Linked DNA regions of Homo sapiens. The protein of the gene in region 6 purifies or fractionates together with the protein of the main gene of each other region. This does not show direct contact. Each region holds a gene or a part of one and is shown on either strand. Other genes may lie near its edges. The genes, in order: IQGAP2, CALD1, EIF5B, PHF6, NAA15, SLC14A2 and DDX42.

What was found.
Region 1: the proteins of SLC14A2 (region 6) and IQGAP2 purify together in Homo sapiens (affinity purification with mass spectrometry; one large-scale study listed by BioGRID and IntAct). This does not show direct contact.
Region 2: the proteins of SLC14A2 (region 6) and CALD1 purify together in Homo sapiens (affinity purification with mass spectrometry; one large-scale study listed by BioGRID and IntAct). This does not show direct contact.
Region 3: the proteins of SLC14A2 (region 6) and EIF5B purify together in Homo sapiens (affinity purification with mass spectrometry; one large-scale study listed by BioGRID and IntAct). This does not show direct contact.
Region 4: the proteins of SLC14A2 (region 6) and PHF6 purify together in Homo sapiens (affinity purification with mass spectrometry; one large-scale study listed by BioGRID and IntAct). This does not show direct contact.
Region 5: the proteins of SLC14A2 (region 6) and NAA15 purify together in Homo sapiens (affinity purification with mass spectrometry; one large-scale study listed by BioGRID and IntAct). This does not show direct contact.
Region 7: the proteins of SLC14A2 (region 6) and DDX42 purify together in Homo sapiens (affinity purification with mass spectrometry; one large-scale study listed by BioGRID and IntAct). This does not show direct contact.

Annotation. Positions count from the first base shown.
Region 1 is NC_000005.10:76,672,285-76,675,784, reverse strand, and holds part of IQGAP2 (ras GTPase-activating-like protein IQGAP2), read right to left. Parts: intron 2,337-3,500; coding exon 2,196-2,336; intron 1,834-2,195; coding exon 1,749-1,833; intron 1,309-1,748; coding exon 1,076-1,308; intron 1-1,075. UniProt on the Homo sapiens protein: Binds to activated CDC42 and RAC1 but does not seem to stimulate their GTPase activity. Associates with calmodulin.
Region 2 is NC_000007.14:134,786,134-134,789,633, reverse strand, and holds part of CALD1 (caldesmon), read right to left. Parts: intron 1-3,500. UniProt on the Homo sapiens protein: Actin- and myosin-binding protein implicated in the regulation of actomyosin interactions in smooth muscle and nonmuscle cells (could act as a bridge between myosin and actin filaments).
Region 3 is NC_000002.12:99,396,389-99,399,107, reverse strand, and holds part of EIF5B (eukaryotic translation initiation factor 5B), read right to left. Parts: intron 2,349-2,719; coding exon 2,210-2,348; intron 361-2,209; coding exon 199-360; intron 1-198. UniProt on the Homo sapiens protein: Plays a role in translation initiation.
Region 4 is NC_000023.11:134,379,812-134,383,311, forward strand, and holds part of PHF6 (PHD finger protein 6), read left to right. Parts: intron 1-3,500.
Region 5 is NC_000004.12:139,343,005-139,346,504, forward strand, and holds part of NAA15 (N-alpha-acetyltransferase 15, NatA auxiliary subunit), read left to right. Parts: intron 1-1,181; coding exon 1,182-1,335; intron 1,336-3,500. UniProt on the Homo sapiens protein: Auxillary subunit of N-terminal acetyltransferase complexes which display alpha (N-terminal) acetyltransferase (NAT) activity. The NAT activity may be important for vascular, hematopoietic and neuronal growth and development.
Region 6 is NC_000018.10:45,618,476-45,621,975, forward strand, and holds part of SLC14A2 (urea transporter 2), read left to right. Parts: intron 1-3,500.
Region 7 is NC_000017.11:63,798,170-63,801,669, reverse strand, and holds part of DDX42 (ATP-dependent RNA helicase DDX42), read right to left. Parts: intron 2,082-3,500; coding exon 2,045-2,081; intron 1,203-2,044; coding exon 1,053-1,202; intron 1-1,052. UniProt on the Homo sapiens protein: ATP-dependent RNA helicase that binds to partially double-stranded RNAs (dsRNAs) in order to unwind RNA secondary structures. Unwinding is promoted in the presence of single-strand binding proteins.

The DNA.
Region 1 (3,500 bases), on a different chromosome or scaffold from region 6:
CCACAAATTCTAAATAGAAATGAATAATCATGAACTACCTTTGTTTTCTAGTAAGTCACTCACTCCAAGGGAGACCGAGGAATGAGAAATGAGTTTCCAAGTGAGGATTAAAAGAGGCCAAACTGATGTTACACTTCTATGGCCTGTTGATTAAATGGCAGACATGAGAACAAACATGACAAGAGGAAAGTGTTTCCTCAGAGCTCCAGGAGGAGTGAATCTGACTACCAGACTCATGCCTTTCTTGTTAATGATTAGTGATATAATTTGGAAACACAAAATCAATAGAATTAAATCTTCTTACATGTGTCATTAAGAAAGGCTTGAGAATAGAACAGAACATATTCACATACACAATCATCAACAAATATAAAATCTGGGTTTTCCTAACCTTTCAAAATCAAGTATTCCATTTCCTACTACAGTCGTTCCTTGGTATGTTTGGGGGATTGGTTCCAGGACCCCCATACACACCAAAATTTGTGCATACTCAAGTTTGAAATTGGCCTTGTGGAACCCATGTATGTGAAAAGTCATCTGTTTGTATATGTGGGTTCTGCATCCCATGAATACTGTATTTTCTCTCTGTCTTTGGTTGAAAAAATCCATATATAAATAGACCCGAGCAGTTCAAACCTGTGTTAATCAAGGGTCAAATGTATCTGACGTAGATAAGCAAGTTCTTCCTCACCGGAAAACTTTTTAAAAATGATTCCTCTCTTCTTAAGTTGAAAGAAGCAGAAATCTGCTATTTTGATTTTTAAATTCTAGGTACTGGAAGCCTGTAGCATACAAGGAAGAACAAGTATGCCATTTTGTCAGCAGCAGAAATAATACACACAGAAAAGACTCAGTGTAATAGGAGTGCTGTGGTGGGGGTGCGATAGGATCGCCAGACAGAGGCAATCTTGCCTGCACTTCCCTCTCTCCTCTTTCCCCAGTGGCTGGTAGAAGAAATGCTTGTAACCACCTGGGGTTCCTGTCCTCCATGCCCACTCTAGCTCTGGGCACAGAGCACATATTATTCTTGCCTACCATTCTTGCACGTTTCTCCAAAACTAAGGGCCCCTCTCACCTGAATTCCTGATACGTCTCTGATAAATAATTGTTCATAGATGAGAGATGCTCATTTTCTCCTTCAAACAGCTTGTTGGAGGCTGCGTGCTGAAGAACCTTGGCCACTGATCCTAAGTTTCTCCTTTGGTCAGAATTTATCTGACCTCCAGCTGTCATGTCGATGATATCAAAGCCATCTGGAGCTACAATGGCTGGATTCATGTACCGATAGTACAGGAGGTTTCCAACAATCTGGAGTGACGCAGAAGTGCATGACCATTTTTAAGAGAGAAAACTCAAGAGTTTTAGTTTTCTTTTTTTTTTTAAAGATATATATTCTCCTACATTTCCCAAGAGAAAGCAGATCATTTTCTGATGTAAATCCTAACAAGGAGTTTAATAAAGGCAATGAATATAATCACACATTATTAATAGCATAATTTGCAAAGTTATTTTTGATGAAAAAATGCTCATTGCCCCCAAAATGCTCTAATGCAAAGAATTTCAATAATGTCTAGGATCTCCAAATTAACCTCAGCTTAATCAATTATCTTGAGAGTCATTAGAAACAGAAGACCTGCAGCTTATTATAAATAATCATACATGGGGAATAATCTTACAAAGTTATATGTTGGTAATTTTGATTCATACCCCCAGGAGAAGCTATGGTGAGATTACCCTTGAAAATCTACCTTTAATAGCTCATCTTCTGTTGCATCGGGGAATTTCTCATGGATCGAATTCTTCAGTACTTTGGCTATATACCTCAATCCATAACTACATATAAAACAGATGACAAAAGAAAATAATGGAAAAAAGGCGGAGTGAGGAAAAAACACACAGCAATTGTTCCAGTCAACTTCAGCTGAGTAGTTTTTCTAAAAATTAAACATAAGATGAGATGGTAATGGAATCACAGGACTTCCACTGATGATAATAACTGAGCTGTGTTTGCTACTGAAGTATTGCCCCTTCTTTAGAGAACAGTCAGGAATTTAAAAGGTAAATGTAGGCAATCTTTTAAAATAGTAAACACAATATAAGGGAAAACTGCTGTCTTCACTACAGGGGCTTATTTTACATCGTATTCCAAGAACGTTCCAGGAAAGAATGTTAAACTTGCTGCAAGTACAACTTACGGCAGTAGATCAAGGGAAGAAATGATAGAATTCAGGACTTTGTCGGTGACCCTTCTCAGGTTCTCAATGGAAGCCTCCAGTTTATTTTTCACTTCTGGGTATGTTAGAGCTTGTTCTGTGGTCACATCATAAGGCAACTTGCTGAAAACACAAAGGCTTTAAATTAACTGGAGGCTTAGGTACAAGCATTAATTTTGCTGCCAAGTTGGTTCTATAGTCAAGCTTTGTATAGTGAATTGGACTTTGCCACTGACTCCAGTAACAAAATGTTTACTAAATGAGGGGAGGCTCCACCTTCACAGAGGGTACCTTCTGCAACTTGGAACAGGAAGGACTTGAGGCCTTCCCTCTGGTCTCTTCTGGCAAGATAAGAGGCAGACCCAGGTAATTTAGACTCAGCTAAATTTCTTTTAATTATAAAAAGCAAATGTTCATTACAGAAAAATAAAATCACATATAATCTAAAACAATACCAGAGAGGACAACCAATTTTCTTTTCTTTTTTTTAAATTAATTATTTTTTATTTTATTATTATTATACTTTAAGTTTTAGGGTACATGTGCACAATGTGCAGGTTAGTTACATATGTATACATGTGCCATGCTGGTGTACTGCACCCATTAACTCGTCATTTAGCATTAGGTATATCTCCTAAAGCTATCCCTCCCCCCTCCCCCAATCCCACAACAGTCCCCAGAGTGTGATGTTCCCCTTCCTGTGTCCATGTGTTCAATTCCCACCTATGAGTGAGAATATGCGGTGTTTGGGACAACCAATTTTCATACCTTAGTGCATAACTGTCCAATCTCCTCTGTGCATGTATGTCTGTGGGCCTCGCATATTGATGGGTGTAATGCAATTTGTGTAATCGACATTCTATACAGATCCTGTGTGGCGTATGTAATGAGCATTCTTTTCCCAGAAAAATGGGTTATTGCACCTAACTCCAACTGGAATATATACCCTGAACATTTTTTTCTGTGCCAACAAATGTATATCTATACCACGATTCCAAATACTTATTCCATTATGTGCTATACAAACATTTATTTAACAAATCCCTCAAAGCTAAATATTTTGACTTTTCCTGACTTTTTATTATTACAAACAGTACTGTAACAACCACCCACATAATTACATAATTCTCTGTGTACACTTTATTTCACAGACATCCTTTTACAGGAAACAAGAAGCTAGGGTTGCTTAAATCTACAACCACCCACCCAGAATAAGCCAATCCAACCTGGATTGTTAAACCTTACACCTTAAAGTTACTTGCCTGGTAACTGTAAAGAAAAGTACGT
Region 2 (3,500 bases), on a different chromosome or scaffold from region 6:
TCCACAGGAAATCACAGCCAATAGCTGACCATTTGTAATTGAGTGTCTATCATGTACGTGCAAAGCAGTTTCAAGATATTACTTCTAGTAGTTGTGACAACTACAAAGTGGAGGAGAAATCATCCCCATTTTGTAAGTGAAAAAAGTGGTAAATTTGAGATTCAAACTCAAGTTCTCCTGACTCCAAAGTTTGTTCTCAAATAGATCTCAATTCTTTCTAGAGCCACATACAAAAGAGGAGTCTCAGTGACGTGGAGTAACTAGCAAGAGGCAGCATAGCACAGTGGTAAAGAAGGTGGGCAGTGCCTCCAGATTATCCCGGGTTTAGATCCTGACCCAGCTACTTACTAGCTGTGGGACCTTAGCTATATTACTTAATCTAATCGTAACTCAGTTTCTTCATCTGTAAAATTAGCTGTTATGAAGATAACTTATTTTATTTTTACCTAATAAAAATCTACATGCTACTTAGCATGTGCCAGGCACTGTTCTAAACACTGAACAATGATACAATTCATGAGGAATCAATGAGCTCCAACATGAACACTGGCTTCAGGTATTTTTAAAGTAGAAATTGTAGACTTTTTTTTTTTTTTTTTTTTACTTTTTGTTTTTTTCTGAGACAGGGTCTCACTGTGTCACCCAGGGTGGAGTGCAGTGGTACAATCTCAGCTCACTGCAGCTTCGACCTCCCAAGCTCATGTGATCCTCCCACCTCAGCCTCCCAAGTAGCTGGGACTACAGATGCACACCACCATGGCCGGCTAATTTTTGTATTTTTTGTAGAGGCAGTGTTTCACCATTTTGCTCAGGCTAGTCTCAAACTCCTGCCCTTAAGCAATCTGCCTGCCTTGGCCACCCAAAGTGCTGGGACTACAGGCACGAGCTACCACTACCAGCCTGACATTTATTTCTTTCACTCATTTAACTCATTTATTAATACTATGTGCAGGACACAGCACATTTTTAGGTTCAAATCACAGCACTGAAAAAGCCAAACAAAGTCTCTACTTTCATAGAGCTTATGTTCTAGGAGCATGAGAAATAAATAAGCAAGCAAACAAACAAATATGCAATCATAAGCATACATTATGAATATGCATGTAACTGAACCACAGAGGTATTCCGCTTGGCTCTCCAATGCAGAGGCTAATTTTACCACCGCATCCCTTAGGGTCAGTGATGTGCTAGTCAATGTTTAGCAACAAGTTCTTGGGTGAGGGGAGGGGAGTCTGCTTTGTAGCATGGGCTGATTTCTGTGGTGTAATTACTTCCATCATGGTCAATTTCAAGTTCTGAATATGACATCACTGAATGAAGAATTGGGAGGAGAAGCTCAGTTGCACAGCATTTTATACAGTATTTCCACCATATAGCCACAATAGATGTAACTAACCTCAAGAGAATAGATAATAGTGAAACATAGCAAAATAATTAGGAAGAGTTTTGAGTATTTATTATCTTGGCTCTTCATATAATGTGTTTAATTGTAAGTTTATATGATTTAGTTTTTATAATGGCTGTGTTTTACAACTGGCTCTCAAAATTCTCGAAAGTTTAACAATGAGCTTTTGGGAGCCAGTATGAGTTTGGGGTGCAGAGAAAGTGGGGACAGTGTTAGAGATGAAGGAGACTGAGTCCAGATGGTGCCATTGTACAGAGGTGGATTCTAATCTAATTCCTTTTTAGCTCCTCTTCTCCAACAAGCTCTGCTTCTATGTACACACGGAAGCACCTGCCCTCTAAACCGAAGAGCATGGGTACAAATATAGTAACAATTTTGACATTCTTACTAGATCAGGTCACTCTTGCAGAGAAACTTTTGGCTCTCCAATCTTTAGTGAATATAATCCATGTACTCAGTGCTCTGAATATGGTAGATTCTTCTGTGCAATACAGAGGATGTAATTCCTAACTGCCGAATAAAGGAAGAACCTAGAGATAAATTTTCTGTCCTTCTGCAAAAGCAAATTATCCCCCATCCATGCACTCAAAGTCTCCTGTCTCTTAGGGTCCACATACTTTCAAAAGGGCCACCCAGGGAAGCATCTAAACCAGGGGCTGTGATGACTCCTGCCCTAGAGAAGATGTAGGGGTGAGGGTGGAGGTGGAGGAAGCTTCTCCCCTCTTCAGGATTTGTGCATCCTCACCACAAAGTGGAAACAGAGAAAAACATCTTCAGCTTTTCCTAGGAAGCGAAATATCTGCTCAAAACCTCCTAAGAACAGAAATACTTAAAATTTTTTTTCTCCTAGATTCACCCCTCCCCCTAAGCCTAAATTTCCCTTAGTAATGATGGCTGGAAAAGGAAGTGGGAAATACCATGAGAAATTTTATTCTTGCCACATTTCCAGTCCTTTACAAAAGCAAACACTGGAAATCTCATCAGAAAAATTTGACCTTACAGGGTTGATAACTTTGTGCTTAAACTGAAAAAAAAGCAAAACTAAAGGTTTTGCTCTTCTGGCCAAACGGATTATTTGGCATATGCAACTATAATTTTTAGAAAGAAATTATTCAAAACTAAAGAAATAGGCTTCTGAGGAATAAGTAACTACATACATCTACTATCAATTATTTTAACGATAGGTGCACAGAACTGTTTCTGAGCCAGGATGTTTTATCAGAGTCACCAGGGAACTTTTACAAACTACAGATGCCTGGACCCCCTTCTAGACCTACCGAATCAGAATCTCTAGAGGATAGGTCTCAGGGATGTGTATTTTCAAAAAGCTCTACAGTTGATTCTGATTAAGATACTGGTTAAGATGCATGGGTATATAGGCAGATTGGGCAGCATTGTATAACCTAAATTTGCTAACTGTTAAAACATGCTCTCTTACTATCAGGGGAAGTAATGTGGTATATTGAAAAGGTTAACTGCTTGGAACTTAGGAGCTGTGTGTTTTGGAACTATCTTACCACTAATTAACTGGATGACTTTGGTCAAGTCACTTGGTTTGTTATTTCATTCAACAAATATTTATTGAGATTCTGCCGTGTGCCACGCACTGGGTATATACGAATGAAAAAAAAATAGAGGTTCCTGTCCTTATATATCTGACAGACCAATAAGACAGGGCAGACATTAATCGAAGAAACCTACAAATACATACATAATTTTACTTGGTGTGGCTAGGCTTTGGAGAATAAAAAATAGATCACTGGTTCATATTTTAAAAAGAATTTCTACTTAAGATCCCAAATTTCCTGTCCCAACCTTCCCACACATAATATAATTATATGTTTTAAGTCCACTCATTAATAAAACACAAAAACACAAACTTAAAAGCTACTATGAATTCAATAACTCTTTTAAATAAATTAGCATTTTATCATTATAATGTATGTATAGAATTAGAAAAATAGTAGCACATATGATGTAAGATATATTATTTACTCAGAGTAGCTTGCCAAAAGCACTTGCTGCATATACAGATTTGTTTACCTCTTGCAATGACTTTGTGGCCTCCCAGGGATCCACCACCCAGAGGTTAAAA
Region 3 (2,719 bases), on a different chromosome or scaffold from region 6:
TTTCTCTGTTGGTGCTGCTTTCCTGATAGAGCAACTTCCTCAACAGACAAGGCCCAGCTAGAGGTCAAGCCCTAATGGGGGATCCAGTCCCATCAGATTCTACAATCAAACTGAAGCCCAAGGAGCTACAGGTACAGGTGACCCAAGAAGAGTGATTCCCTGTTGCTTAAAGTGTGCCACTTTTGCTGAAATACTTACCTTACTAACAAGAATATCTGTAGCTTCAAAATGTCTTCCAAACATTTTGGGTGACTCACCAGGGATAGGTTCTATTTTTACACAAACTTCTTGTCCTTTTTTTGCAACATCCACTTGTTTATGGTTTATTTCAATACTTGTTACTATTCCGATGTCAACAAACTATAAAATAAGAACAAATTAAAATGCATGCAGAAGAATTCATGCCAATCACAGGCGCCATGGCTGGATAGCTGAAGTAAGAACTAGAGCAAAAGCCTGTTTTAAAAGTCATGGCAGTGCGATCCTTTCATCACTCACGGTGTAACATTTTGGTAAACTAGGCTGGCACCACCAACACCCTATTCCCTTCATGATGGTTGTAAGAATGACAGGAGATAATGTGCTTTGCAAAACATTCCAAGTGCCCTGTTGACCCAATGTCATTTCCTATTTTTGCTCTACCATTTCACGTGACAGGTGCCGTAATAGGAGGGATCAGCAGGCACAAAGGGTCTGAGTCAGGAATGAGCTTGAAGTGGCTGATGGGAATGAAGTCAGAGTGAGGACCAATCCTGAAATTTTAAGAATGATGGCCTGTGAGCAGATGAGTGATGTGATCTCAGAGTTTGGGGCAAAAAACCCTGACTCCTTTGTGGAGAAAAAGATTCAGGAGAGTAAGAGTGAAAACAGGGAGAGCTCTGGTTGGTTTAGGAGGCCAAAGCCACATAGAAAGTAACACAAATAAATGTCCAGGCTTAGTCCACTGAAATGGTAGAAAAGCAATGACAACTTCTAAGTGCCATTGCCCATTACAAGAACCAGGTTTGGGCCAGGGAAAGTACTAGATGAGGCTGGAACATCTCAACCAGAAAGGAAGATGATGCTCAGACTGCTGTGTGTCAAGGATACAGGAGCCAGTTGAGCTCCTACTGACCACAATAGAAAATCTGAGTATCAAAAGAATAAAGGTAATGGATTATATTAAAAAAAAAAAAACCCACTGAGTCTATGACTCAATAAAAAGGTCAGTGGGAAGAGGTTCTTTGTAAGAAATGGGGGGACAGGTATATCCACAATTTTGCAACCATCTACGTAATAGTTGACTTAGGCAACGCTTGCCAGTGGGTACTAAAGGCACTGGGATAAAGGCTGTTGAGAAACAGGATATCCATTAGGAACTCCAGGTACCAGACAGATTACAGAGTAATTATAAAGGGGCAAGTTTCTAATGGAGATGGTTGGCGTCTAGCACTTTCCCCAGGAAATCAGAGCATCAGCAGCAGTCAGACAGGCTGGGTCATGCAAGAGGCAGGCACACAGGGAAACTGCATGAGTGTCTTTCCAATAATTCTAACCTGTGTCTAGTTGGGAGGGAGAGAAACAGATAAATCCAAATGGAGGAGGGATTTGCAAAACAACAGGGACACTTCAAAAAGAATGGAGGACTGTTCTTGACTGAGGCTCAGCCACAAAACAAGCCCCAGTGCAATGCAGCTTGCAGGGCACTGGGCCAGATTGGTGGGGAGAGTTACCAAAACATCTTTGGAATAACTGGTGAAATAATGTTGAGGGCTGCAAATTATAGGATATTGTTGAAATATTATTAATTTTTCTTAGGTATGCTGACAGAAAGGGAAGGTAAACATGAGTGTTCATTATACTAGTTTTTAAACTTTTCCACAGGCTTGAAACCTTTCAAAATAAAATAAAAGGCAATAATGTAAAGTGCCTTGGAGCCCCAATTAACTGAAGCACTGAGATCAGCACTGAGTCAACACTGACTATGGAGCACTGATATTTACCAATACTGAAGCACAACAGAAGGTGACAGGCTCTGCTTGTTTTAAAGTTACCACATTTTCTTCCTACTGAGGTAAAAACACTGAAACATTTGTTAAGAAGGTGGAGACCACACTAAATACACAGCACAGTACTGTGAACTACAGGCACAAAGCTGTGTTGGTACGACTCTTGGACACTCATTTAGTGCTTTAAGAAATGACCCACAGAATGTACAACTAGAACTTACATTTTTGCTTGGGACACACATGGGTGTCCCCTGTTTCACCTGACCTGCTTCCACCGTCACCCCCATCACTATCGGATCTCGAGAATTAAAAATGTACTGAGGGAGGATTTTTATCTTGCAGGGAAATACTGCTATGTGCCTGAAAGGAAAAAAGAAAAGAATTTTAAGCTTACAGAATCACTTAAACATAAAAAGAAAAACTGCAGCTGAACATCAGGCTTCTCCCATTAGAGGAAAGCAGCTTTCCCCAGCGGCCACAGGAGAGGGGCAGGCAGGGTGCTGCAGCCCAGGGCCACCCCATGCCCAGAGCGCTTCTTCCTTGTTCTTAACCTCCTCCTCCCCATTCTGTTGCTTCCCAAGTCTTTGCTTTCTTCTCTTTTAAAGCCCTACCTCCAAAAGAAGCTGCATCACAGGAGCATTCTGTTCCTAGTCTAAAACACTGAGCTTGGCTGCTGAAGATGTCAGCCACAGTCTGGGGCTTAGAACCTAGGCAGTACCTGGTGACAGGCA
Region 4 (3,500 bases), on a different chromosome or scaffold from region 6:
TTCTGAGAACCATAGCACTATGTTTTTATTTCCTAGTCCTTAAAATAAATGCAGATATAAAAAAGAATGATACTTACTTGAAAGTGATTGTGCTGTAAACCTTATTACCCCTTTATTTATTGCTTGACATTATGACTATCCCTGGAAAATATTTCTGTATCCTGACTTGTTAGCATTTTGTCACTTGACACAGCTTGTATAGTCAGAACAAAAGCAGTTTTGGTCCCTAATGTTGAAACATTATTAACAAATGCAATGCCTAGTGTTACACTACATGAAGCAACAGCATACATCTGTCAATATTGCGAAGTTCAGTGGAGATTTAATTTATTTGGACCTTTTTTTTTTTTTTTTTGACAGAGTCTCGCTCTGTCGCCCAGGCTGGAGTGCAGTGGCGTGATCTCGGCTCACTGCAAGCTCCACCTCCCAGGTTCACACCATTCTCCTGCCTCAGCCTCCCAAGTAGCTGGGACTACAGGCGCCCATCACTGTGCCTGGCTAATTTTTTGTATTTTTAGTAGAGACGGGGTTTCACCTTGGTCTCAATCTCCTGACCTCGTGACCTACCTGCCTCGGCCTCCCAAAGTTCTGGGATTACAGGTGTGAGCCACCGCGCCCGGCCTTGGACCTATTCGTTAAAGCATCAGAACTTTGTATGAGTTTTACTATTATAAATTGTTTTGATTAATTTTTAGTGTTATAGTGTAGGGAGATAATTTTTTCCCCAAATGTAGTGTGTTACAAATAACGAAATTTGTTCCTTGATCTAGGGAATGGAACAATACTGGGAATTGAGAACACAAGCTTTAGTGACAGACTTGAGTTTGAATCCCAGCTCTGTCATTTACTAGCTAGGTGATCCTGATTAAGTTATTTACTTCTCCAGGCCATGTTTTCCTCACCTGCAAAAGGGGTTAGATAATGACAGTACTTGCCTCCCAGAATTATTGCCAGAATTAAAAGAGGAAGTATATAGGATTTAAGGTGGTGCTGGGCACATGGTTAGGACTTGATAAATAGTAGCCACCACTTATTGTTTTTGTTTGTTTTTGTTTTTGAGATGGAGTCTTGCTCTGTTGCCCAGGCTGGAGTGCAGTGGTGCGATCTCGGCTCACTGCAGCCTCCACTGGGTTCAAGCAATTCTCCTGCCTCAGCCTCCCGAGTAGCTGGGACTACAGGTGTGTGCCACCATGCCTGGCTAATTTTTAATTTTTTTTTTATTTTTAGTAGAGACAGGGTTTTGCCACATTGGCCAGGCTGGTCTTGAATTCCTCACTTGAGACCGTCTGTCCGCCTCGGCCTCCCAAAGTGCGGGGATTCCAGGTGTGAGCACTGAGGAATAGTGGCAGAAGGGAAGAACTTTTGCTCCGTTTCCTTCCCTTAGAATGTCAGTTTAAACAACTTATATAGGGGATAGGAATGTAACATACGTTTAGGTTTGAAATAATTTTTGAAACTCCTTTTAGCCTTCAGTTTTGCTTCTTTCATTATATCATTTTTACATGATGTGCTATCAGGTAACCAAAATTCTAGATTTAAGTTTGATTCTCTACTATTCCCTGTGTCAATTTGTCTAAGCAATAAAAGGGCTATGAATCAAATAGGAGGGGGGAAAAAGAGTGAAGAGCTTAATGTAACTAGATAAACTGCATATAAACTAGGTAATCAGCTTCCCTAATTGACATTTTTTTTTTTTTTTTGAGATGGAGTTTCGCTCTTGTTGCCCAGGCTGGAGTGCAATGGCGCGATCTCGGCTCACTGCAACCTCCGCCTCCTAGGTACAAGCGATTTTCCTGTCTCAGCCTCCCAAGTAGGTCAGATTACAGGCATGTGCCACCATGCCCAGCTAATTTTTTTGTATTTAGTAGAGACGGGGTTTCACCATGTTAGGCTGGTCGCGAACTCCTGACCTCAGGTGATCTACCAGCCTCGGCCTCCCAAAGTGCTGGGATTACAGGCGTGCACCACCATGCCTGGCCCCTAATTGACTTTTTAAGGCATTTTATCCCGTGAGCCTGTTTGCTTTGGCTCCTGTTCATCTGGATTTCTAGGTGAAAAGTAGGTCATGAACACTCATTCAAAATCATCGAAAACTGGAGTACTGAACCCTGAGTGCTTTCAAGACAAATTTCAATCTGTACCTGGTGTTGACTCCAAAGTTGCTCGCTTGCCCCAAAGAAAAGAACAGAGAGATAAGGAGGCTAGGGCTTGAGGTTAAAGTGTACGTATCAACAGCCAGGTGGGTCAGAGTTGAGGATGAGAGGGCTCAGTAGAGCAGGAGGTGTGAGTGTTTGGTTTTTATGTTCTTGCTGCCACAGGCAATTTTCCAAGGTTCATGTCAGCCACAAGGATCAAAGGAGGAAAGCCATTCTGCATGAACATTTTCATCTCCTTTACACGGTCTTTAATTATATAGCACCAAGATGGACCAGGAAAAATTTGCCAGAGTACTAAGGCTTTTATGATTTGATGCCCTGTTTTTGCAGTTTAGACAGATATATATTTTTCCAGTATGATTTCCAGTTTCTACTGAAGCCATATGGAGATACCACATCTGTACCATCTATTCTTACTTAACTCCAGTCATCTAGCCAAGAAATGCAAATTTCCAAGTAAAATTATGAGTTAGCACTGCTTTTTTGAATTTAAGGAGATACTTGAAAGAAGGATATTTGAAGAATTTACCGTTTCTGGATGAAGCTAGCTGGTGAGATTACTAAGGGTATCTACTATCTACATTGGATAGCTATTCTTCTTTTTTTTTTTTTTTTTTTAAGATGGAGTTTCCCTCTTGTTGCCTAGGCTGGATTGCAGTGACATGATCTCGGCTCACTGCAACTCCGCCTCCCAGGTTCAAGCAATTCCCCTGCCTCAGCCTCCCCATTGGCTGCAATTATAGGCGCCCACCACCACGCCCAGCTAATTTTTTGTATTTTTAGTAGAGACAGGGTTTACCACGTTGGCCAGGCAGGTCTCAAACTCCTGACCTCAGGTGATCCGCCTGCCTCTGCAGATAGCTATTATTCTAATTGGTACCGGTGTCAGATTATATCACAGATTACAAGAAGAGAAAGAGTTCAGAAGGCCATTTAGTTCACCTGTCTTACCCCTATGCAAGATTTCCTACAAGCCACTCAAGATAAGATTTTTGGCCTAAGGATTGGCTGACACGTGTAATCCTAGTGCTTTGGGAGGCCGACTGGGAGGATTGCTTGAGGCCAGGAGTTGAAGACCAGCCTGGACAACAAAGTGAGACCCCTATCTCTACAAAAAAATTTAAAAATTTTGAAATGTGGCATGTTCCTGTAGACCTAGCTACTCAAGAGGCTGAGGTGGGAGGATTGTGTAAGCTCAGGAGTTCGAGGCTGTGGTGAGCTATGATTGTGCCACTGTATCCATCTAGCCTGGGTGATAAAGTGAGGTCCTGTCTCAAAAAAAAAAATTTTTTTTTGCCCTGTTTTTAAATATATCAAGAAATTGTAATTCTACCCAAGTAACCT
Region 5 (3,500 bases), on a different chromosome or scaffold from region 6:
CTAAAAAAATAATGTGCATAGTCTGGCTTACTTTTAATTTTGAAATAGTTTCAAACTTATAGAAAAGTTGCAGGAATAGCACAAAGAACTCTACATAGGGGTTCATTCATACTAAACTAATTGTTAATATTTGGTGCATTTACTTTAAAATTTGTGTATCTATTTATCTATTTTAATTTTCTTCCTTAAATGTTTGAGAGTAATTGCAAGACATCATGCTCCTTTACCCCTAAATGCTTTAGTGTGTATTTTCTAAAAATAACTGTATAGTTTTCAGTTCTCTAGATAGTATTATAGGGATAGATTATAAAAATTAGGAAATTTAACACTGATAGACTGTTATCTAATTAATCCCCAGCCCATATTCAGAATTTACTAATTGTCCTAGTTATAGCCTTTCTAGCAATTTGATTTCATTGCAGGATCCAATTAAGAATCATACCTTACATTTAGTTATCATTTCTCTTCAGCCTCTTTTAATCTGAAACAGTTTTGAAAACTTCCTTTGTATTTTATGACATAGACATTTCTGAAGAAGGCTGTGCTTTTGTAGGATGTCCCTCAATTTGGATTTTTCTGATGGTTCCTCATTCTTAGATAGAGTTTTATAATTTTGGCAGGAAACCATATAAATGATATTGGGTCCTTCTGCGTTCATTACATCAAGAGGCACATGCCATCAGTTCGTTCCATTTGATTACATGGTGAAAGTTGTATTTGCAGTTGTAAACGTATTTTTCTCTCTTTGTGTTTAATATGCAGTTTGAGACTGAATAGCCTATTGCTCATCAAACTTTCACCATCTAGTTTTAGCATTCATTGATTATGATTCTTGCCTGAATCAGTATTACTATGATAGTCGCAAAATGGTGATTCTCTTAACTCTAGTCATTCCTTGTAGGTTTATTATTTGGCATTCTACTCCTGAGTAAGAGCTTTCCCTTCTTCCCCATATTTATTGTGTGTAAGGACTTATGGATTATTATTTTATTCAACCTGTTATATCCTAATATTGTCATTATTTACTCAGTTGCTCTGTAGATACTTAAGAATTTTTTAAAAATTAGTTTTATCAACCGGATGTTATCCTTTGACTTCTTACATGTTTTTGAGTATTGTGAACAATTTTCTGATATGAAAATAAAATTCTTACTGTCAGTATTCCTTATATCCATATACAGACATCCCCTGACAAGGTGGATTATGAATATAGTGAACTACTCTTATATCAGAATCAAGTTCTTCGGGAAGCAGGTCTCTATAGAGAAGCTTTGGAACATCTTTGTACCTATGAAAAGCAGATTTGTGATAAACTTGCTGTAGAAGAAACCAAAGGTATTTTTAAAAGAATTGTCATTTATTCTAATATTGAAATATGACAGAGCAAGGCTGAAAAATCTAGTTGCTGCTGACAGTTTCATATAATTCAGCTTTTTGATGATAGGAAATCTATTTCTTACTCGTGTACTTTTAATAGTTTATGATGTGGGAAAATGTACATTTAAACAATATTGTAGATAGAGGAGAAAGTTGATTGTGAACAATGAAAAGTAGTTGAATGAAATGACTCATAACATTCTTTAAATAAAGTATCTTTGTATTAAAAATATTATGGAATTTGATCAAAACACAAGAGACAATTAGTTTTATAAGACAGAGGATGACATTTCTTAGAAACAGTTTATTAATAAACTATAGTGTATGTAGTATGTGCCAGATTTATTGCTAATAATATATATTGATGAATCAGTCTTTACTAAAATACATATAGGATATTTCTGAGAGTCTTTATGGTTAATCTGAATGTCTTCGATGACACAGAAAGAATATGAGTTCTGGAAGAAAGGGAGACCAGAGATTTGGGTTCATAATATGTAGATTGTGATAGGAGGGGTAGATCCCACTCAGCAGAGGGCTGAGAAAAATGAGTCTTAACAGTTTTAGAAGTTGAGGGCGTGATTATAGAAAATAAAAGAAGAATAACAAGTAATGAAAGGACAAGTGATTTTTTAAAAAATTACCTTCTGAAATGCTGCTTTGTCCTTGCTAGTCTAGGGAACTGAAGTTTGCTGGTTTCACATTCCCTTGGCTCACCTTGAGGTTGAACACAAAAAGTATAATATACATCCATGTGCATAATAGGTATAGCCATTGTTTGCCAGATAAACTTTTGTCGGAGGATAATGGTACTGATAAGAAAAACTGGAATTCTAAGACTTCTGGAGGGAGCTCTCTTGTGAACTGCAGATCCAAGACAACCTTCTTTCATTTGAAGTAGTCATTCTTTAGTAGTCTGTTAATCACAAAGGAAGGAAATTTCTGACTTGCTGGAAAGATGGCAAGTCTGGAAAAAACTTGTCTCATTGGCCACTAAATAGCTCTGTGAACAGAGTCAAGGCTTGGGCCTCAAGTTTCTTTATGGAAATAAATGACAAATTATTTCATTTGATCCCTTTGATAACTTCATTAATGAGGAAGAATGGCAGATAGGTAAAGTTAGATAAAGGACTCAGAGCTGACCAGTGGATTTTTAGCAATTTAGAAGTCATTGGTGACCTTAACAAAAGCACTTTCTGAGCTTCTGGAAGAAGGATGGTAAAAGCCCAAACATCAAGTCTATTTAAAAGAGACTGAGGCCGGGCGCGGTGGCTCAACCCTGTAATCCCAGCACTTTGGGAGGCCGAGGCAGGTGGATCACGAGGTCAGGAGATCGAGACCATCCTGGCTAATCTGGTGAAACCTCGTCTCTACTAAAAATACAGAAAAATTAGCCAGGCGTGGTGGCAGGCGCCTGTAGTCCCAGCTACTCGGGAGGCTGAGGCAGGAGAACGGCGTGAACCTGGGAGGCGGAGCTTGCAGTGAGCTGAGATTGTGCCACTGCACTCCAGGCTGGGCAACAGAGCAAGACTCCGTATCAAAAAAAAAAGGGAGTGGGAGTAGAGGAACTGAAGATAAGAAGCACACATGACTCAGTTGAGGAGTTTTGCTGTAAATGAAACAAATGGGGTGCCGGTAGGTGAAATGGGATGCAGGCTCAAAAAGTTTTTGTTTGTTTGTTTGTTTTTCATAGCGTGTATTTGTGCTGACTGGGGAGTGATCCAATAGAGATAGAATATTTGATACAGTAGAGAGAATGTCATGTGGTAGATTGATGTCATGTGAAGGATTAATTTAGGTAAGAACATGAATAGTTCACATCAACAAGTAGTGGTGGTGTGTAAGTGGCGGGCAAGTAAATGTGTAGATGTAATGCATATTTTGGAGTTTCCTCTAATTGCTTCCGTTTTCTACATGAAATAAGAAATAAGGCTATCAGCTCATTCCACAAAATATGTATTGAATACCTACTTTGAGTTAGGTAATGGGACAGGGTGTATAAAGAGAATAGAAGGGAAGTGAGGGTAGAATCAATCTTTGGAAATTCTAGCAATCTTTAGAAATTCAAGGCAGTGTTGCTGGTAGGGATAGTTGGTGGGAGAAGATAAGATGGTCAAGATCAC
Region 6 (3,500 bases):
CTGGCCAACATGGTGAAACCCCGTATCTACAAAAAATACAAAAATTAGCCAGGCGTGGTGGCAGGCGCCTGTAATCCCAGCTACTCGGGAGGCTGAGACAGGAGAATTGCTTGAACCTGGGAGGAGGAGGTTGTAGTGAGCCGAGATTGCACCATTGCACTCCAAGCTGGGTGACAAGAGCGAAACTCTGTCTCAAAAAAAAAAAAAAAAAAAAAAAAAAAAAGAAGTAGTAAATGGGGCCATTTGAGATTCATCCCCAGATGACCAGGGGACTGGTATACTTAAGCCCAAGAGACTAGGGATAGGGAGAGAGCTTTGACTCTGCACTAATTCACACCAACAACTCAAGAAATCCCTTTGAACATGGGCCCCTTACATCCCAGGGCAGCAGGAGCATACGAAATAGGCACAGCCCCTCTTCACTGGGCATGGGCGTGTTTCTGCAATTCTACTGGAGATGGATGATCTTTAGGAGAAAATAATCAGGAAAAGAATTTCAAAATTAGTACAATAGAGCAGGAGCCACAGTTTTTCTAACCATTGGAAGAATTTGGGTCCAAACCTAGACACTAAGGACTCCTGACAGTCTGGTTCTCACACCCTAGTTTTGTCTTTGATTGCCTGCTGACATCTCTCCCATGCTGTAGCAGAGTCCATGCTGGGACTTGCTTGCCCAAACCATGTATTTTCTCAGGCATTTCTCTGGAGTGTGCTCCTCTTTCTCACCTGCTTAGCCAAGTCCTGACATGGAAGCTGAGCCCAGTCTCCCCAGGGCTGGGAGGGCAGGGCAGCCGCTCTGTGCTCTCTGCACCGCCCTCTTGCCCTCTGCCCTTGTGCCTCCTGCTCAGGACACAGTGCCTGCTCACTGCTTCTCCTGGGCACTCGAATGTGAGCCCTTTGCAGGCAAGGACTGGGCCTTCCAGCAATGATCCCTCCAGGGTAGCCCACAGGCGAACGGTAGATATTCAACAAGGAGGGTTCTTACAAAGAGGATGGAGGAGCTGGTCTGTTTTGGGAGCCCCTTGCCAGACATTTGAGGCCTGGTTTTTGGAGAGACGTGGGACTGATCCAAACAGCCTCTCTGTCCATATTTCTGAAGGAGAAGAGGAGGTGTGGGCAGCCAAGGAGAGTCTGAGTGCGCCAAGCAGATCATTATGTGTTCTTGGAAGCAGGTTTAATGGACTGGCGCTGAGCTGAGCTGGGAACGGGCTGAGGCCCTCAGCCCGGACGTGGCTCGGGCAGGGATTTCACATCCAGTTCTAACAAGTGGCGACGCCTTATGGAAACTTTTGAAAGCTGTTCCGTTTCACACCAGCCAGCTTGTACTTCATCTGGCTGCTCCCACCCTCTCTCCCTTCAATTTGGGAGCACGAGAAGAGGGAAAAGTAAGATCACTAAGCGCCTACTATGTGCCAGGAACCAAGTCAGCAATTTCACTGTCCTGAGAAGCCTACGTTGCCCTTCGGAGACATGGAGGCCCACGCGGCCCCGAGTGGCAGAGCAGGGAGGCAGGAGCAGCCCCACCTCACAGCCTGTGCTCCTTCCGGATGCGGAGACTTGCTCTCCACAGGGCCATTGGTGCTGCATGTCTCGCCCCCTACCCCAAAGCCAAAATTCCCCGTTGTAACAGAGTAAACATTCCCGTGGCAAAGGAACGCTGTATTCCCTAGAGGAGGTGCAAGGCCCTGTTCCTGCAGAGGATACATAGGATTGAGAAACACAACAGCGGGCTGAGGCCCTGGACCCAGGCGCTCAAGGGCCAGCCACTCGGCTGTGCATGGCCCAGCCAGGCAGTCAGAGTAATGGAGAGCGCAGTGGGGAACTGGGTCTAACCTTGACTCTGCAGCAAACTGCTCATTTTCTGGGTCCTGCAAATGTCACAATGAGGTGAGCTTGCTCTGGAAAATGCTGAGAGCAACATACACATGAGAAACAATTCCTATTTTGCTTTTCAAGGACATGATTTATCTGTAAATGGAAATATTGTCTGCATACAGAAGGGACTCAAAGGTGGAGTACCTTTTTGGAGAGTACCCTAGAAAGAACTTCCCTTGTGCAATAATAATAATAAAGGGATTTTTAGGTGTAAGGCTTTCTGTTGGGTGGTATAAATGCAGAAATTAACAAGGTAATGGCCCCTGTTCTTACAGGGATTATAAAGTAGACACATTTTTTTTTCATCAAAAGAAATATAAAAATCTTTAAATTCTTACGGTTAGGAAATAATTTCTGAGTATACCCATTCTCAACTCCTACCTGTATACTTCAGCCCCACCACTTAAAAGAACACTATATTTCCTTGATTATATGATGTATATTATTTTCATATTTTAACATTTCTAAAATCAGGATGCATCTTGAAATTATGAATGGAAGCATTTTCTTCTTTCTTTATGATACATAAAATAGTGATCAATCTTACAGCTGATAACATCTTAGATTCCATGAAATATGTTTAGGAAAAACCTTTATCATTACCACTTTTCAGCTAGACTTTTAATAGATTTCATAGCCACTGAATTTAACACAAGGCCTTTCCGGAACATATCTAGTTCATCCAGTTGTATAGTGTCATGCAGATTGTGTGTCTAGATATCTGATTGCCCCTGCTTACTTTTCATATGGTTGGCTTGGAGGGAAATTTTTACCAAGGGCCAGGGATGCTGTATCACCTCTTGGCCACCAGAGGGAGAGAGCGCATTGGAGAGGAACAGGTTCTGGGGCTTGTCGGATTTCACTGTCTCCTAAACCTTTCCAGCATGCCCCCTCTATGGCAGTGTGCCCACCCCTTACTGAAACCCTACCTACAGGGTCAGAATACAAGGAAAGGCCTCCATTCCGGAGTTATGGCAGCATCAGGGTTAGTTAGATCTGAATGACATTTGCAGACCTACACAAAAATTCACAGTGGTCTAATGAGCTCCTCCTGGGAATGAGAACGGTGCTAGACATGACAGGGGGTTCTGCCTGCAGAAAATGCATGGCTGGTGGGTGGCCCCACGCTGTTCTGAAACCACTGGAGATCCCTGAGATCCACAGAGATTTGTAAAGTTATGCAGAGAAGTGTTCCCTATCTATCAGTCACCTGTAACCTTGCTCACAGTCGCTTCCTCCCCCCCACCTCTTCCTTCCATATTTATTTATTGAACCCTTACTACATGCCACACACTGTGCTAGGAGCTGGGGTCAAAGCAATAGACAGAACAGAGGAGGCCACCGTCCTCATGAAACCTAAGTTCTGGTGGGAAGATAGAAACCATACAAATAAATATACAAATCTGCTATAAGGAAAAATACCTGGTCCCATGAGAGTATGTGACAGGAGAACATGGTGGGTGGATCTGCGAGGGTTTATTTAGCAAGTGATCATTGAGACAAAGCCTGGCAGAAGTGTAGGGGTTGACCAGGAAGAGTGAGGGAAAGGTCTTCATGCCAATGAACCAGCACTTGCAGAGGCCCTGAGGTGGAAAGTGTTCAACACCTTACAAGTACTAAAAGGA
Region 7 (3,500 bases), on a different chromosome or scaffold from region 6:
CAGCCTGGCCAACGTGGTAAAATCCCATCTCTACTAAAAATGAACCTGGGAAGCAGAGGCTGCAGTAAGCCAAGATTGCGCCACTGCACTCCAGCCTGGGCAATAGAGCAAGACTTCGTCTGGAAAAAAAATAAACAAAAAAATAAAGGCATGCCAGGTACAGTGGTGTGCACCTGTAGTCCCAGCTACTCAGGAGGCTGAAGTGAAAGGATCACTTGAGCCAGGGGATTTGGGGCCAGTCTGGGCAATATAGCAACAACAACAAAAACAGTAAACACAGGCCAAAACGTTCCCAGTTTGAAAGAAAGATGTCAAGGCTGGGTGCGGTGGCTCACGCCTGTAATCCCAGCGCTTTGGGAGGCCGAGGCAGGGGGATCACCTGAGGTCAGGAGCTCAAGACCAGCCTGGCCAACATGGCAAAACCCCATCTCTACCAAAAATATTTAAAAAAAATTAGCCAGGCATGGTAGTGGGCACCTGTAATCCCAGTTACCCAGGAGGCTGAGGCAGGCAGAATTGCTTGAACCCAGGAGTCAGCGTTGCAGAGAGCCAAGACTGTGCCACTGCACTCCAGCCTGGGTGACAGAGAGACAGAGAGAGAGAGAAAAAGAAGAAAGAAAATAAAAGAGAAGAAAGAGAAGAGAAGAAAGAAAGAAGAAAGAGAGGAAAAAAAGGAAAGAGAAAGGGAGAAAGAAAGAAGAAAAGAAAAAGAAAGAAAGGAAGGAAGGAAAGAAAAGAAAGAAAGGAAGGAAGGAAAGAAAAGAAAGAAAGAGAAAGAAAGAAAAGAAAGAAATATTGGTTCTGGAAAACAAGTACAATTACTTGAAAAAAATGTTTTAATTCTAAAGTCAAATGTAAGTGATTTGGTTATACTTTTGAACAAAACAGGCTATAAAGCCTCATGGAATTTGTGGCTCAACCACTTAGTAGAGATGACAAGATGCATACGCTCATGATGTAAGAGTATTCCACTACTGAGAAAATCTAAATGTTAAAGCTGAAGTAAAGCATCAGCTTGAAACAAGAGTAAAATTCAGCAAGAAACACCATACCTCTGAATGATCAATGGGGGGAAGAGGATCAATGATTTTTTTGGTAGGTGCAATTGGATTTCCGTCACTATCATATTCTAGATTGTCTTCCTCTTCCTCCTGAACCACACCAGCAGTTGGGTTTTCTGCCATGTATCGAAAATAAGCTTCCTGCAGGAAAGCACAAGAACATAATCACACCCAAGTACAATTGAGAATGTTTCTGCTCCTGTAATTAGCGCACATAGTGTACCAGATAATTGCACAGTTAACATACCTACCAAGTAAGGCAAGATCCTTACTAGCAATGATTCCTTTAATAATAGCAATATTCAGAAGAACAATCAGAAGAAATGAATTAAACAGTTAGTACTATTAAATGTTGCAACTTGTTTAATAGAAGACTTACAAATCTGTCTGTTCCACAGCCTTCCTGGAGTGGGGTGTCTATCAACCCTGCCCAGAGCCATAGAACACATGCTGTGGCTTTAACAATCCAAGTTTGGAAGTTAACGCTAATTAGAAAGGTCACAAACCTGGAAACGGCTACCACTCACTCTGATTCTCATCACTCCACAACTGAACAATGGGGGAAAAGAGACTAATGGACAGTAATTAATGTTCCAGCTTGAAATACAAGAACCACAAACAGGACACTTACTAAGAGACAGAGGTTAGATGTTACCAGAGGCCATCAATAGATCCCACACTACTCTACCACTTGATTTATCAGAATAAACATTAATTTTGGATTTAAAAAGAAGCAAGCTGAATAAAGCTCGTATTTGCTTTGGATGTCACAGTTGATCAAAAATTCCATCTTCAATATGGGGGAAAGCCATGTGAATCTATGTATTACCAATTGGTCACACAGGTACAAAAGGAGCAAATCAAATGACATTCCCTGCTGAATGTCAGGAATGGCCATTTTGAGTGAAGGCAAGCTCTAGCTTGTCCCCAGTATAGACTTTGTGGATAAAAATAAAAGATAGAAATACTGCATAGGAACTCACTTGGTCATCTTCCTCTTCAATGTCATCTCGAATACCCCTGGAAAAACAAGCGGAGAAACAAACTTCCCTGCAAATGTTCCACATACCCAGCTCCATACTTACAGCAGATTAGTGTTGAATTCCACACAGCACAGGAACTCTCAACACTAATAATAACAAAGCAGCAATGAGCACACTATAAACTATCCACCCCATTATATATATGTGTAGCTGCACTCTATAATCTGCAGTTTGCATTTCTTTTAAATGGGATGATATGATACCCCTAGAAACAGCGGTTACCAACAAGGATATCAGACGTAAAAACTTTCTGAAGACAGATACCAAATGGTCCTAGTTTTGTGAATCCATACAACAAACAATGCGGTTGTGAAAAGTATTTCATACTAAAAAGAAAAAAAAAATCTTGTATTTGGCATATACTAGAAAGGTCACAACCTTCTTATTGTCCCCAAAGTTTCTAGCTCTAGGGTAAATGGTTTTCAGCCAAAAGCAGTTACCTTAGGGATGGGGACAGAGTGAAAACTACATTAACTCCTTTATGAGTTTGGGAATAAAACGCTTAAACAGTTCACATGGAGAAGGGGACCATCACCACTTGCTGTATGTCTCAGGAGCTATAGAGAAAATATGGTTGCTTAGTTCCCACAACCATCTGTTTCTAATCAGACTTTCTGCCTAACCTAGAGCGCTTGCTATTCCTAAGGCAACCGGCAAGCAACACCACCAGTGCAGGGCAGGTGGAAGGGGATATGACATACAGTGAATACCAAAACCACAGCTAAATCTCCATATGGAACAGAAACCCTGGTAAAGGACTGAAGCACTGACTGCCAAGCACAGGGAGAAAAAAGTCCAATCATGACTGGCAGAAAAAGCCTTAGGAGTTTATTCATCAAGGCAAAGAGACTTCTCTTTCCCAGAAAATAAAGTACTTCAAGTTCTGACTATGGCTGCTACAGCACAATGTCACTCTGGAGCTAAATAAAATTAGGTATTATTACAGCCCTCCTTATACACAGGTTTTTATACTGTGAATATTATTTTTCCACCTGTGTTGGTTGAAAAAAATCCCCATGAGTGGACTCACGCAGTTCAAACCTGTGTTGTTCAAAGGTTCAACTATACATAGTTTTCATGATACAGTTGCCATTACTTCTCATAATCAACCATATAGGCATAAACCTATTTTATATTAATTATGCGACAAACTCAGAACAATGAGCCTAAACTTTAATAATTATGCTCCCCTAAACTCTACTATAATTCATTCCTTGTGTTTACTAAACAACTATTTATAGTCAAAGACCAAATACTATTCTACCAAACTGAATGCTTTTTAATTATTGCAAATGCAAAGACTGTTGCCATCTCTATTCTTAAAGTATTCAAGATACAGGAATAACTTCAAGTAAAGTACACAAGTGTACGTCAATATTTTTTCTCTATAAACTTT